Regions from separate parts of the Homo sapiens genome. Here region 2 is linked to region 1. The links come from fine-mapping of genetic effects on gene expression. A gene starts in region 1. The other region holds a variant in brackets. All regions are shown on one strand. Distances are between the middles of the regions. Region 1 holds the start of GALM (galactose mutarotase). Region 2 overlaps GALM (galactose mutarotase).

The links. PIP is the estimated chance that this variant, and not a neighbour inherited with it, causes the effect.
Region 2: its variant is the best candidate, but not a certain one, in a credible set for the expression of GALM in whole blood (INTERVAL, PIP 0.89).

The regions. Positions count from the first base shown.
Region 1 is chr2:38,663,510-38,667,896 of GRCh38, reverse strand. GALM (galactose mutarotase) reads right to left here and starts at 1,783. Exons shown (of 7, transcript NM_138801.3): 1 at 1,546-1,783. The coding sequence starts at 1,735. RefSeq lists enhancers at 1,006-1,518, 1,519-2,031.
Region 2 is chr2:38,705,955-38,710,341 of GRCh38, reverse strand. All of the region lies in intron 4 of GALM (galactose mutarotase), which reads right to left. The region is part of intron 1 of LOC124905993 (a long non-coding RNA gene); the gene reads left to right. Among named protein-coding and RNA genes, the nearest start is that of GALM, 42 kb to the right of the region's middle. RefSeq lists a silencer at 328-528. The variant G/TG (reference allele first, on the strand shown) is at 2,236.

The DNA.
Region 1 (4,387 bases):
TATGGTCAGCTGTTACACAGAAAGGCAGAGGGAAAGGTTAGAGTATATTTTTATTTTTTTGAGATGGGGTCTCACTCTGTCGCCCAGGCTGGAGTGCAGTGGCGCAATCTCGGCTCACTGCAACTTCCGCCTCCCAGATTCAAGTGATTCTCCTGCCTCAGCCTCCCAAGTAGCTGGGATTACAGGTGCCCGCCAGCAGCCTGGCCAACATGGTGAAACCCCATCTCTACCAAAAACACAAAAAAATTAGCCGGGCATGGTGGTGTTCAACAGAAAGCTGAGTTTTGTTTTTTTCCCTGAGGAATTGAAATTTGCTCTCTGTTTTTTAAGATAGAGTTTCGCTCTGCCACCCACGCTGGAGTGCAGTGGCGCAATCTTGGCTCACTGCAACCTCCGCCTCCTGGGTTCAAGCTATTCTCCTGCCTCAGCCTCCTGACTAGCTGGGATTACAGGCACGTGCCACCATGCTCAGCTAATTTTTTTGTATTTTTAGTAGAGACAGGGTTTCACCATGCTGGCCAGGCTGGTCTGGCCAACATGTAACCATGAGCCAAGTTACATATCTTACGTATCGGAAGAACCAAACAGACAGAATGACACACCAAAAGGAAAACCTCAAACCTCCTCTCCAGCAGAATTTGTCTACGCCCCAACCACTGAGCAGAGAGTATTAACTCTCAGTTTCCCTTTGCCAGCTTTATTTCACACCTCATTTTCTGTCTAGTTACACCATGGTGCTAAGAGAGCATGATGTACATTTTCCTTTGCTGCAATCAAGCTGCAATTGTCATTCTTTATTTATGCAATTACTGAGTTAAAGTCTATCTCCCCAGCCAAACCGCAAGAGTGGGGACCTTGTCTGTCCTGTTTAATGAGGTCATCGGATTAATAGAGTTGTCAAATGTATTAATTAATGCCTGATCCTAATTGCCCATGGATTCTGGGATAAAAGTCCATCCTAGTTGGTAGGAGACCTGATCTCTGAGAAGACACTGAGTTGGTCTTCTCTATTTTGTTCCTAAATGGTTATTGGGTAGCTGGTGTACTAGGCAACCACTGAGCTTAGTGGAGCATTTCTGAGACAACCAGGCCTCAAAGAGAATCTGATCAAGGAAGAAGGAAGTAGAAGAGGCAAGTATTTGAATTTCCTTCTTCAGAAGGGAAGAAGTGGGAGCCACACCCCCTCTTGCCTGCTCTTTCCTCTCCAGCCTTCTCCAGGTATCAGGCAGTTCAAAGATTAGGCAGTTCAAAGATCGCTCCAGGATCGCTGAAGTGTATCATACCATCAGCTGACCTTTTACGTTAACTGGGGCAAAGCCTGAACGGATAACCAGAGGCCAACTGCCATAGTTTATTTATTACAGTTTTTCCCAAATGCTGGATGGCCACACGGCCCTCTATGATGCATGCGCTTGCAAGTCAGACGGTCCCAAGCTAGGCGACTTTCCCCCTTGGTCCCTCGCATTGCAAGTGGCCCGCTAGATCCGGGAGGTATGTAGCGTGGGCCTGGGGCCTGCTCGCAGCCCAGGGCACAGTTCAACCCACCTTCCAACTCGGCGAAGCCAAGCACCACGTCCGAGGCTCTCCCCTGCCTGTCTTTGACCTCTAGGGCTGTGATCGTGCAGCCCCAGGAGATGATGTCCACTCTCAAGAGGTCTGACTGCAGCTGGAACTTCTCCACTGTCCCTCCTCCCGAGGGCAGCTCTCCAAACACGGCCCTGGTCACCGAAGCCATAGGGAAAGTTTGGCGTGTGCAGCCACTGCCCGCTCTTCAAACTCCAGCGCTCGCTAAGCTAGAGGCGACCCAAGTTTACAGGAGAAGGGGCGTGACTCGGCTCAGACTCCTCCCTTTCCCTGCCTGGATTTAGGGAGTGACCGTTCCTGCAAAAAATAGCCCCTGGGGCCTTTCTAAATCAATCATTTGCCTGAGGGTAACAAGAGGGGCAAACTTTGCAGCCACACTTGTACTTTTTTTCCTTGGCTCGTCCTGGTTGCATTGCATGTTGGGAATGGTAGTTTTTGGGAGGTGAAATTGCATTTTGGGGCTTGTAGTCTTTCTAAACTCGAATCCTGGGTTGACGGGGTTCTACCCCCATCTCCCCACACCTCAACATGTAATGAGCTGGTCATTAATGTCGGTGGCTATCAGACGAAGAATGGGAAAATACAGATAGCAGACTTACAGTGAGACCGATCTTGGGAAAAAATTAGATTTTAACTCTTTGATACAGGGGGTAAGAAGTACAGCAGTAGTTGGCCGGCTCGGTGGCTCACGCCTGTAATCCCAGCACTTTGGGAGACCGAGGCAGGCGGATCACGAGGTCAGGAGATTGAGACCTTCCTGGCTAACACGGTGAAACCCCGCCTCTACTAAAAATACAAAAAAAAAAAAAAAAAAAAAAAAAAAAAAAAATTAGCTGGGAGTGGTGGTGGGGGCCTGTAGTCCCAGCTACTCGGGAGGCTGAGGCAGGAGAATGGCGTGAACCCGTGAGGCGGAGCTTGCAGTGAGCCGAGATCACGCCACTGCACTCCAGCCTGAGTGACAGAGCGAGACTCCGTCTCAAAACAACAACAACAACAACAACAAAGTACAGTAGTAGCTTAGAAATGAGGTAAATCATCTCAGGCTTCTCTGCACACAGACTTACTGAAGATTCACTCTTTTTGTCCCACGGATGAAGTCCTGGACATGGTTCTGTTAGAGCCACTGCCCAGAAGGCTCTCCTGACGGCCAAAGCTGTGCCAGCCTCGAGGAGCTTGGACCAGACAGGGTCAGGTAGATGGATTAGGCCCTCGGTGTGCGGAGGTGATTAGAGACAGCCTCAGACTTATTTTACTTCAAGGGACTGGAAAGGGACCTCTGGTGTCTTCTGGCTCCTGAAGTCCACAGTTCCTTTAAGAAGGGATTCAGGGAACAAGTATTGATTGAGGTCCTTGTAAATGCCAGGTACTGAACCTTTGTTATCTCCTTTTCTACAAGTAGGATGGAGTCTTCAGGTATGTACAGTTGGAGAGGAAAGACACTAAGGTTATTAAATAATTGTCTTGCTTGATTGTGTCTCAGAATTTGCTGAGGACATTTAAAATGCATATTCCCAGTCCCCACCTCTGGAATTTCTAATTCTGGAAGTCTAGGGTGAAACTCAGGAATCTGCATTTTTCATGTTCCCAAGTTATTCTTCTGCAGATTATCTGGGACCAGATTTAGAGAAATATTGCTCTAAGGCTTGATGAGTAATCTGAATTTTTTTCCCCAAAAAAATAGGCTCTGATGGCAGAAGGATTAAGATAAAGCTATTAAGGGCCTTAATGAGATAACATACAGGCACCTATGTACTTCCTTGCTAAGTCTGGCAACTTTAGAGGAGTACTGAGCCTAGGAAGTGGGAGGATGCTGGGAGCCTAAAGACAAGTTTTACTCAAGCCATCTGCATAATCATCTATCTTTTCTTGATACTGCTCTTGGCTTGGTTCCTGGGTACTTCAGAGGGTATCCAACTAGACTGGGGTGAGTGCAGAAATGAAATGCATCTTTGATTAGGAAATTATGAGAATTGGGATTATGTGCCTGGAATCAGATGCTAATAAAACATAATAACTATCTCTCAGCTTCTTCTGTCTGTAATTTAAGGTATATTTAGCATTCTTGCCATAAAGCCTCAATTCTCCATCATGAAGCAGAAGAATTCTGATAGCAAAGGAAAAATAAAAAAGCTTGCAACAGGCTTCAGTGAAGCTCAACGTATAATAATAAAAAGACCCAAACAAGTCAAATTATAGACTGCATCACACTCATACAATAACCGACAGGCACTCCTATGTGCTGCTTCATCAGAAATTCTCATAAACTCTCAGTTTCATCAGCCACTTAACTTTGTGGTGATTCACACGCAAGCCCTTTGGCAATGCTGTGTTAGCAAGGATGTCTTAGAAAAGTGAGCAGGAAGACCACTTTTTTTTTTCTCAACCTCCAGTTCTCAGTGTTCTGCCAAGCACATGCTGTTACAGAAGGAAATAAATGTATTTGCCTGCCCAATGCTAAATGTCTCTACGGAAGCTCTTTTTACTCCATTTGGTAGAAAATGAATGTACCATGATGTCTCCCTAAAATGTAAAGAGGCCTGGGCGCGGTGGCTCATGCCTGTAATCCCAGCACTTTGGGAGGCAGAAGCGGGTGGATCACCTGAGGTCAGGAGTTCGAGACCAGCTTGATCAATATGGTGAAACGCCATCTCTACTAAAAATAAAAATAAAAAAAAACTAGCCAGGCATGGTGGTATGTGCCTGTAGTCCCAGCTACTCTGGAGGCTGAGACAGGAGAGTTGCTTGAACCAGGGAGGCGGAAGTTGCAGTGAGCTGACGTTGCACCACTGCCTCCAGCCTGGGT
Region 2 (4,387 bases), 42 kb before region 1:
GAATGCAGAAGTCTGGGACTCAAACACTGGATAGGGGAGTAACTATTTTATAGGCTCTAAATAGCTCCTCCAAGTGTGGACCTAGGACCATCTGATGACCACATGCATCACCCAGGGGCTTGTTAGACACATAGATCCAGAGGCTCCACTCCAGCCACTGAGTCTGAATCTGCATTTTCACAAGTTGCACAGGTGATCTGTGTGCACATGAATGCTGACAAGCACTGATGTGGAGATCATCTGAGGAAGCCCCAGGTTCAGGTGGGCTGCTGCTCTGAAAAGCAAAAGTTGGGAGGGACACTGGGGCAGCAGGAAGAGCACGTGGTGCTAGAGTCTGGTCTCCATGAGGATAGCCCAGCTGTGCTTCCAGCCCAGCTGCTCCAATTATGTCTGTTTCTTTATCTAGTCGGGCTCAGAAGAGTCAGTCAAATTTGCATAAGGAGGCCTGCGGTAAAGGGGCTCATGGGCACAGGTACTCATCTGACACCTCATTAAGCCATCTTCGTAAATCATCTCTAGAATGCCTGTTGTTATTTTAGGAAACAACATAAAGAGGATGATAATTAAAAGTAACACCCTGGGTGGGAATTTTTACTTCCTTCCAGTGGTTGGCAAGTAAAGCACCTTGGGAATTTTTTGGTAAGGTAACATTTCTATACATTTTTCACAGATCACACAACATCAAAGCTTGTCTATGCTGCAGGTTTTTTTCCCTTTCCTCTGCTGGTGCTTTGGGTTTGCGGCTTTATTCTGTTGCTGGCTTTTTGTCTTATGTTTTTTTTTTTTTTCCTTTCCACCGAGCATTTTCTGATTTTACCTTGACTTGCAACGGGGGAGGGTATTGCTTCTGGATGTTAGATGACATCCGAAGCATAAAATGCTAAACCAAGCTGCAGGTCGTTTTCAGGTGAAAAGGCAATTTTACGCTTCATGGTTGGGACCACGTAAGGCATTTTCATGGTGGGGTATTTTTCATCTTAGATCCATCAGGATGACATCCAGGGATTTGCTGTCTAGTAGAAAGTTCACCTTTCAGTTACCCACTGTCTGTCTGCAGCCTCCTAGTCCTGCTGCTCTCCTGCACAGGCACAAGGGCATTCCTGCTAGACCTGCTCCCCTCCTGGGACTGCCAGGCCCCTGATGTTGCCATATTCCCCTGGTTTTCAGGGCCCCTTGCCACGCGTCTTCCCTGTCCCCCACAACCCTCACTGCCTACCTGTCTAGGCCCACTGTCTAGGACCTGAGACCCTTAGTAACACTCCTTGATCTGCCTTACACCCTGTCCTCCTGCTCCTCCTCTCTGATAAAACCCCAACTTCAGGTCATCCCACCATTTGCCTTCTCTGCTCCTGACTCCGCCCTGCCGAGAGAGCTGGAGAAAGCCCACAGAAGCACCGGCAGAGGCCACCACAGATTCACGGTCTCAAGCCTTCCCTGGATTCCTCTGCTCTCTGACAACCATTTTACTTGTCCTAAATCAGCTCCTCTCCTTCAAAAAACAAACAAACAAACAAAAAAAACTGTTATTTGACCCCACTTCCCTGCCTCACAGAGGAGCCTTCTCTTTGTCACAGCTTGTTGACAGCACTTTCTTTTTTTTTTTTTTTTTTCTTGAGACAGAGTCTCGCTCTATCACCCAGGCTGGAGTGCAATGGCATGATCTTGCTCACTGCCAGCTCCGCCTACCCGGGTTCATGCCATTCTTCCTGAGTAGCTGGGACTACAGGCGCCCGCCACCATACCTGGCTAATTTTTCATATTTTTAGTAGAGGTGGGGTTTCACCATGTTAGCTGGGATGGTCTCGCTCTCCTGACCTCATGATCCGCCCGCCTCGGCCTCCCAAAGTGCTGGGATTACAGGCTTGAGCCACTGTGCCCAGGCGACAGCACTTTCAATACCAGTCCTTTCTGTTAACTCACTGAGGTAGCTTCTAGGATGCTGGGACAGATTCCATGGCCCTGTGCTAAAGCAAATGAATCAGAATCTCTGAGGTGGGGCCCAGGATTCTTTTTTATTTATTTTTATTATTTTTATTTTTTTAGAGACAGGGTCTTGCTCTGTCACCCAGCTGGAGTGCAGTGGCGTGATCACAGCTCACTGTAGCCCCTAGCTCTCTGGGCTCAAGAGATACTCTTGCCTCGGTCTCCCAAGCAACTGGTACTACAGGTGCAAGCCACCATGCCAGGCTTTTTTATTTTATTTTATTTTATTTTATTTTATTTTATTTTAATTTT[G/TG]ATACAGTTTCTCACTCTGTTGCCCATGCTGGAGTGCAATGGCATGACCTCGGCTCACTGCAACCTCCGTCTCCCAGCTTCAGGTGATTCTCCTGCCTTAGCCTACCGAGCAGCTTGGATTACAGGTGTGTGCTACCACGCCTCGCTAATTTTTTATTTTTAGTAGAGACAGGGTTTCACCATTTTGGCCAGGCTGGTCTTGAACTCCTGACCTCAAGTGATCCACCCACCTCGGCCTCCCAGAGTGCTGGGATTATAGGCATGAGCCAGCACACCCGGCTGCTAATTTTTATATTTTTTTTGTAGAGATGGGGTCTTGCTGTGTCCTGAACTCCTGGCCTCAAGTGATCCTTCCGACTCAGCTACCCAAAGGACTGGGATTATAGGCGTGAGGCACTGTGCCTGGCAGGGTTCTGTATTCAAGAAAGCTGCCTAGTTGGGAACCAGTTATTGGCCTATATTCCTGAATCTTTCCTCACTTTTTGTCACTTCTCAAACGGTTACAGTCTGGCTTCTGCCCTGACCACTCTGTTACATTCTTAAACGGGGTCAGGACAACAACCACCACAGCCATGCAGGTTCCCAGGTCTCCTGCCACTTGACTCCCTGGAGTATTGACACTGTTGGTCACTCCAAGACTTCTAGACACCTCTTCTCCTTCTTTGCCTTCTACCCCTGGCCATCTCCCTTGGCACTTTAAGGTAGACCCTTTTTGGACCTTAAATATTGGTGGTTGTTTCCTAGAGTTTCCCAGGGTTTGGTCCTCAGACCACTGCTCTCCTCAGTCTATGATTCCTCTCTGGTAAATCCACGTGGCTTAATCTACAAAGTACACGCTGATGTATGCCTCCAGCTGTCATTTCTCTAACGTCACACTCATGCATCCAGCTGCTGGAAGTGTAAGGTCAGGTGTACAGGGGAGATGTACACCCCACAGGCACCCTAACCTCAAATATTTCAAGATCAAATCCATAGTTCTCCCAGCCCCCCATGCCAGCTCCCCCTCCTCCCCTACTCACAACTCACTGAACATCCCCATCTCTACTGCCCAGCAGCTGCTCTAGAGTCCCGGGGTCATCACACAGCCTTCCTGCTTCCTCATCTATGCATTCAATTCAGGCCTCCTGAGTTTTACCTCCTAAATATGATTAAACTGCCTTCTTCCACCTGACCCTTAATTTGGGTCTCATCTCTTGCTTGGACTATTAAAATAGCGACCCCCCCGCCCCCCTTTTTTTTTTAAAGAGATGGAGTCTCACTATGTTGCCGAGACTGGATTTGAACTCCTAGATTCAAGTGTTCCTCCTGCCTCTGCCTCCTGAGTAGCTGGGACTACAGGTACACACCATTGTGCCCAGCTCCAACAACAGCATCTAAACTGGTCTCTGTCTCCAGTCAAGTCCCACCAGAACAGTTGCTGGGGTGATATTTCTTTGTTTCTGAAACAGAATCTCCCTCTGTCACCCAGGCTGGATCACAATTCACTGCAAACTCCACCTCCCTGGCTCAAGGAATCCTTGAGCCTCAGCCTCCCGAGTAGCTGAGACTACAGGTGTGGGCCACCGCACCTGGCTAATTTTTTTTTTTTTTTTTTTGTAGAGATGGGGTCTCGATATGTTGCCCAGGCTGGTCTCGAACTCCTGGGCTCAAGCAATCCACCTGCCTCGACCTCCCAAAGTGCTGGGATTACAGGTGTGAGCCACCACGCCCAACCTGGGGTGAGATTTCTAAAATGCCAATCTTGACAGGTCAGTTCCCAGCTTAGAATGCTTGAAAGCCCTCCATGATCTAAAGTTAAAATTCCAGCTGGGTGTGGTGGCTCACGCCTGTAATCCCAGCACTTTGGGAGGCAGAGGTGGGTGGATCACGAGGTCAGGAGTTCAAGACCAGCCTGGCCAACATCGTGAAACCTCGTCTCTCCTAAAAATACAAAAATTAGCTGGGCAGGGTGGCGGGCACGTGTAATCCCAGCTACTTGGGAGGTAAAGCAGGAGAATCGCTTGAACCTGGGAGGCGGAGGTTGCAGTGAGCCAAAATCGTGTCACTGCACTCCAGCTTGGGCAACAGAGTGAGACTTTGTCTCAAAAAAAAATCAGCCTGATGTGGTGGTGCACGCCTGTAATCCCTGCTACTCGGGAGGCTGAGGTGGGAG